2 linked regions of the Homo sapiens genome follow. The protein of the gene in region 1 interacts with the protein of each later gene in a pairwise test. Each region holds a gene or a part of one and is shown on either strand. Other genes may lie near its edges. The genes, in order: DEDD and SHMT1.

Region 1 (3,823 bases):
GATGGATTTAGGTAGGTTAAGATTGGTGTTGCAGAGAACTTTTAAAGTTACAGTAGTCCAGGTGAGAGATTATTGTAATCTGAACCATGGCAGTGGAGGTGGAAAGGTAGGATAGATTTAAGAAATATCTAGAAGTAGCATTAACAGGAATTTAGGATTGATTGTGTGATTGGAGAGTGTGACCAGAGAGTGCACAGTATAGGATGGTACTGTCTGGTGGAGCAGTAAGTATGAGTGACTTGAGTCAAAGTTGTTGAATTTGGGAATTGATTAATGGCTGCGTCATTGGTATTACCTGTAGCCCATAACGATGGAGGAACTTTGTGAATCAAGAGCCAAACTATATAACGAATGTGGAGCTGTGATTGGTCATTGATAGGGGATTGGTAAATGACATCCATGAGGAAAGCTTAGAAGGTGGTATTGCCAAGGCCAGGTACGGTGGCTCACGCCTGTAATCCCAGCACTTTGGGAGGCCGAGGTGGGTGGATCACCTGAGGTCAGGAGTTCAAGACCAGCCTGACCATCATGGTAAAAACCCATCTCTACTAAAAATACAAAAATTAGCAAGACGTGGTGGTGCGTGCCTGTAATCCCAGCTACTTGGGAGGCTGAGGCACGAGAATTGCTTGAACCTGGGAGGCGGAGGTTGCAGTGAGCCGAGATTGCACCACTGCACTCCAGCCTGGGTGACAAAGTGAGACTCCATCTCAAAAAAAAAAAGTTGATATTGCCAAATAGGGTGAAGATCAAGGGAGTACAAATGGCATAGAATTACAAGAATGCTTATTGTAGAAACTTAATGTTTATTTTAAATCCATGAGTTTTGGTAAATATTGATAAACTTTCTGAGCAGTTATCATTTCTTGATGTGGTTGGATTGTAGGAAAAATGTGGAGGGATGATTCTGGGCTGCAAAGGCCAAGGATGCTTGTATCTTTGAAATGTTTCACAACCATTTATATAAGGGTTACCCGTGATTTTCTCATTGGATTCTTAACAACTCTGAGGTGTATATTCATTCATCCCTGTTTATAGATGACAGCACTGAGAATCTGGAGTTAAGTGACTTGCTTACGGTCACACAGCTACACAGCCTTTCAGTGATACAGTCAGAATTTAAACTAGTTCTTTTTTTTCCGAGATGGGGGACTCACTCTGTCACCCAGGCTACAGTGCAGGATTATGGCTCACTGCAGCCTTGAACTCCTGGGCTCAAGTGATCCTCCTGCCTCAGCCTCCTGAGTAGCAGGGACTACAGGCACATGCCACCATGCCTTGCTAATTTTTTTCTTTTTTGTAGAGATGGGGTCTTGCTATGTTGACCAGGCTGATCTTGAACTCCTGGCCTCAAGCCTTCCTCCCACCTCAGCCTCCTGTGCAGCTGGGACTACAGGCGTGTACCACCAAGCCCAGCTAATTTTTTCTTTTTTTGTAGAAACGGGTCTCCCTATGTTGCCCAGGCTGGTCTTAAACGCCTGGGCTCAAGTGATCCTCCTGCCTTGGCCTCCCAAAATGCTGGGATTACAGGTGTGAGCCCCTGTGCCTGGCCAGTGTTTATTTTTAAACAAACACTTCAAAAATTTAATAAACATGTATAAAGCACTATACTGTGCCAGGCATTGTTAGCAACTGGGAATATGGGAATGCATGAGACTAGTTCCTGCCCTTGAGTGTCTCATCGGTTCTTTCCCTGCCCTTTCAGTACGGTGGGGATTGCAGCTGCTGAGCAGGGATTCTGGAAAGCATTGCGTACCTGAGCCCCCAGCATGGCGGGCCTAAAGCGGCGGGCAAGCCAGGTGTGGCCAGAAGAGCATGGTGAGCAGGAACATGGGCTGTACAGCCTGCACCGCATGTTTGACATCGTGGGCACTCATCTGACACACAGAGATGTGCGCGTGCTTTCTTTCCTCTTTGTTGATGTCATTGATGACCACGAGCGTGGACTCATCCGAAATGGACGTGACTTCTTATTGGCACTGGAGCGCCAGGGCCGCTGTGATGAAAGTAACTTTCGCCAGGTGCTGCAGCTGCTGCGCATCATCACTCGCCACGACCTGCTGCCCTACGTCACCCTCAAGAGGAGACGGGCTGGTGAGGAAGTATTAGGGGCTGGAATCAGGGAAGAGTTGTGGGAGGCCAGGAAGGAGCAGCATAGGCGTCCAAAGGGGAGGACACATTGATCCTGGGGAGTACTTAGAGTAAGTTGTGAGGCCCACTGGGGGTTTGGACTGACAGAAGGGAAGGGTGTATATTTTCCTGAATGATTACTTCTCCTCCTACAGTGTGCCCTGATCTTGTAGACAAGTATCTGGAGGAGACATCAATTCGCTATGTGACCCCCAGAGCCCTCAGTGATCCAGAACCAAGGCCTCCCCAGCCCTCTAAAACAGGTGAGAAGACATTAACTCCCCCTGCTTTCCATCATCAAGTAAAAGGACACTGATCCCATCACATTCTGGGCTTTGCCAGCTTAAATGAAAGGATGCTGTGCGCCCACATCTTGCCCCATAAAAAAAAAAAATCAGGCGAGGTGACATTTCTCCTAGGTCCTGTATTTGCTCTCACATGTCTTGTCTTTTTTTTTTTTTTTTTTGAGACAGAGTCTCCCTCTGTCGCCCAGGCTGGAGTGCAGTGGCGCAATCTCGGTTCACTGCAAGCCCCACTTCCCAGGTGCACGCCATTCTCCTGCCTCAGCCTCCTGAGTAGCTGGGACTACAGGCGCCCGCCAGCACGCCCAGCTAATTTTTTGTATTTTTAGAGACGGGGTTTCACCGTGTTAGCCAGGATGGTCTCGATCTCCTGACCTCATGATCCACCCGCCTTGGCCTCCCAAAGTGCTGGGATTACAGGCGTGAGCCACTGCACCTGGTCTCACATGTCTTTTCAAGTCACATTTTTCCACTGCTTTTAGTGCTAAGTCTAAATGATTCCTTCCTCATTCCAACAGAAGTGTTTGAATTTCTGCCTTTACCCTACTGTGTTTTCTTCCCTTTTACTTTCTGGTCAGTGCCTCCCCACTATCCTGTGGTGTGTTGCCCCACTTCGGGTCCTCAGATGTGTAGCAAGCGGCCAGCCCGAGGGAGAGCCACACTTGGGAGCCAGCGAAAACGCCGGAAGTCAGTGACACCAGATCCCAAGGAGAAGCAGACATGTGGTGAGGAAGTTCAAGGGTTCCAGAGATGGAGCAGACTTGAAGGAGAATATAAAGAACTGCTGGGACACTGGGCAGTTTATGCTATTCAGTGTGAGATTCACTTTGATTGCCATTGCAAAGTGAGGCTGAATGGTTTGGTGTCTGGTGGAAGAACTGCTCTTTATGATTGTGGCAGGGTACATTTCAACTCTTGTTAGTTAATACTACATCACAGGGATGTTGTTATGACATCCTTATTGTAGGATGAGCCAAGTCGAGTATTAAAATGAACTTCTATGCCTGGTAATTAGGAAAATATCTCCTATAAACAAGTTGCTACCTGTGAGTAATGGGAACAGTGCTGACCTCGGCATGTCCCGTTTAAGGGAACCTCCTGCATTCAGGCAAGGATTTCAGAGATACATAGAAATAGTCCTGGGGAAGAGGTAGAGAAGCTGTCAGGTGATATTCCCTACTTTTTTATTCTGTTGTGCTTTTCAGTTTTCAAGCTTGGCTTGTAAACTCATCCCTTACTGTAACCTCTTCTGCTCTGTATCTTCTGTTTCCAACAGACATCAGACTGCGGGTTCGGGCTGAATACTGCCAGCATGAGACTGCTCTGCAGGGCAATGTCTTCTCTAACAAGCAGGACCCACTTGAGCGCCAGTTTGAGCGCTTTAACCAGGC
Region 2 (2,912 bases), on another chromosome or scaffold:
GGAGATTGAGAAGGCTAACGCGGTGAAACCCTGTCTCTACTAAAAATGCTGTGGTGGCACACACCACGGTCCCAGCTACTCAGGAGGCTGAGGCAGAAGAATTGCTTGAACCCAGGAGGCAGAGGCTGCATTGAGCCGAGACTGCGCCACTGCACTCCAGCTTAGGCGACAGTGAGACTCCGTCTCAAAAAAACAAAAACAAAAACAAAAAATGGAGCGGGGGCAGGGACCATACCTTGGCTGTCTCTTGGCTGTGCCTTTGTACTTGGCCCTGACCCTGCCAGGGAGCAAAAAGACTGATGTAGAGCTGTTGGAGGTGGTACATTCATCAGATGAGGGAGGTCAGGGCCTCCGGAATCCAGAGGCTGCATTTCTCTGTGGGTTGTTAACAAAATATTGATGACGCATCTCAGACCCAGACAGATGTTACCCTCATTTTTAGGAGCAAGGGGCACATCAGACCACTTTGTGTACTAGTAATTAAGTCAGAGTGGCCAAACGTGGTTGTGCCTCCTTGTGCCTTGGGTTCTACTTTAGTTTCTGAATCAGTTGTACTCCTTGCTAGGGACAGCCAGTATCCTCAGGCCAGTTCTCTTTTGCCCACATGTCCCTTTTTAAATGCACCACCATCACAGTGGTGACAATGTGACTTAGGGACAGAGCCCCGTTTATCTTGTAGGTGACAGAAGCGCTCTGCGGCCCAGTGGACTGCGGCTGGGGACCCCAGCACTGACGTCCCGTGGACTTTTGGAAAAAGACTTCCAAAAAGTAGCCCACTTTATTCACAGAGGTAAGGATAAAAGTTTGGAAGTTGCCACATCTTATTGTGTGTATTTAGTTTCTGATTGTGATGAGTAGCTGAGACCCTGCCACTGAAAGACAATTCTGCACCAAGGCTGAGTGTTGGGGTGGGAGACAGCAAAAAACACATGTAAATCACCTTGTCTGAGAGGGTTATAAATTTGGGCTGCCCAGGACATCTGTCCAAGGGTGGGTGCATCTCAGAGTAATTGAGGTAAGCATGGAGACCTTGTGCCCTGCCACACTCCCCAGCTGGGGGACATTCTGACATTTGTGCCTCGGCCCCCAGCCATTGTACCCCCTTTGGTGTGTAGTGTGGGGTGACTCATTTGTGTCTTGTGGCACAGGGATAGAGCTGACCCTGCAGATCCAGAGCGACACTGGTGTCAGAGCCACCCTGAAAGAGTTCAAGGAGAGACTGGCAGGGGATAAGTACCAGGCGGCCGTGCAGGCTCTCCGGGAGGAGGTTGAGAGCTTCGCCTCTCTCTTCCCTCTGCCTGGCCTGCCTGACTTCTAAAGGAGCGGGCCCACTCTGGACCCACCTGGCGCCACAGAGGAAGCTGCCTGCCGGAGGACCCCCACCTGAGAGATGGATGAGCTGCTCCAAAGGGGAACTGTTGACACTCGGGCCCTTTGAGGGGGTTTCTTTTGGACTTTTTTCATGTTTTCTTCACAAATCAAAATTTGTTTAAGTCTCATTGTTAGTAATTCTGGGACAGGTTATTAAAGGATTTAAATTTGAACCTGGCTTTCTCACAGCTGGACATAATTCTAGGAAAATAAAATACTATGTCGCCACTTGGTCATAATCATTTAGATGGTGGTGTAGGGCAAAGCTGTTAGAAAGATTGTAGCGTTTTACTCTCCCTGGGCTTTCCTCCGCCTTGCTGCAACAGAGAGGAAATGCCCATGTCCACAGCTTGTACACACTGCCCCCTCACTATCTTGTTATCCAGTGGCATGCCAAAGGAGAACTGAATTAGCTTCTGAGGCTTCTGCTGTAAATCAGAAGTGTATGTTAGTCAAGAGTAAACAAGATGCACCCAGTATGGTGGGAGGGTTTTGCTGTCAGTAGCTCAAAGTATGGTGTAGAAATGGCCTCCTCCCTCCATCCTGGGAAGTCCCAGTCCCATCCTGGTGTGAGAATCAACCAGGCTTTCCTGCTCCACCTGAGATAACCAACTCCCTCCCGTAATCAGGAAGCCAAATGTCACCTTCCCAAAGAAATTTTATTTTCACGTAGCTGAAGTGCAAAACATAGATGACCATTTTTAATAAGCACAATCAAATTTTTAACCACAGAATGTCTACAAGAATTATAGCTTTAAAAAATACAACCAATTTTTATATTTCAAAAATATTTGAACTCAAATAAATTAATTTCTTAAAAAGTACACTTCTCATACTATGTGTTTGGCATTGACTCTGGTTAACTCTTGTGCAGCAACACCTACGAGATGCTATCACACACGCGCCAGCTGCACTCCTGCACCAGCCGCTGCAACGACTGCACCTCACGTGGTGGCGGGGACTCACATTCACAAGACGGGACGGGAACATGCAGTAATAAAATAGCTTTTTAAAAAATAACACATATAAATTCATCACATAGGATTATGCTTTTCACTGCAACCTTGAAGGTGGCATTTATCTCAATCTGTGACTCCAGCTATTTAGTGGCAGACAATCCCGGTGAGGCAGCCTGTGGTCCCACCTTGTAGGTGGCAGCCCCTGCAATCTGGGGTCTAGCCTGTCGGCGTTTGCTTTATTGTGGGTGGAGCAGCTGCTGCAGAATCTGTGAGTTGACTCACCAGTCCCTACAGTTCTGCTACCAAAGTGGTCTTCAATTTAGGGGCCTGACCCCTCCCCAGCTGGAGACAAGCTGCCATCTCCAGGGCTCGCTGTAAACAGCCTCCACTCTTGGGCTGAATAAGCACTCCCAAGAAGCTGGGCCCCTACCAACAGATTAATCGGCTGCAGAGTGCTCATCCCCTCCCCACACCCCCATCCACCCCTGCCTCCTCCTCCTTTCCACTGCTTTAACCAAACCTTAATGAGGTAAGGCCAGGCTAGGTCAGGGCTCAAAGGAAAATGGGCTCAGGAAAACTTAG

What was found.
Region 2: the proteins of DEDD (region 1) and SHMT1 interact in a two-hybrid assay, tested with the Homo sapiens proteins (one large-scale study listed by BioGRID and IntAct).

The regions. Positions count from the first base shown.
Region 1 is NC_000001.11:161,122,409-161,126,231, reverse strand, and holds part of DEDD (death effector domain-containing protein), read left to right. Parts: intron 1-786; exon of another isoform or gene 787-1,705; 5' UTR 1,706-1,769; coding exon 1,770-2,094; intron 2,095-2,285; coding exon 2,286-2,393; intron 2,394-3,010; coding exon 3,011-3,157; coding exon of another isoform or gene 3,158-3,247; intron 3,248-3,708; coding exon 3,709-3,823. UniProt on the Homo sapiens protein: A scaffold protein that directs CASP3 to certain substrates and facilitates their ordered degradation during apoptosis. May also play a role in mediating CASP3 cleavage of KRT18. Regulates degradation of intermediate filaments during apoptosis.
Region 2 is NC_000017.11:18,327,156-18,330,067, reverse strand, and holds the end of SHMT1 (serine hydroxymethyltransferase, cytosolic), read left to right. Parts: intron 1-679; coding exon 680-790; intron 791-1,148; coding exon 1,149-1,318; 3' UTR 1,319-2,195; downstream 2,196-2,912. UniProt on the Homo sapiens protein: Interconversion of serine and glycine.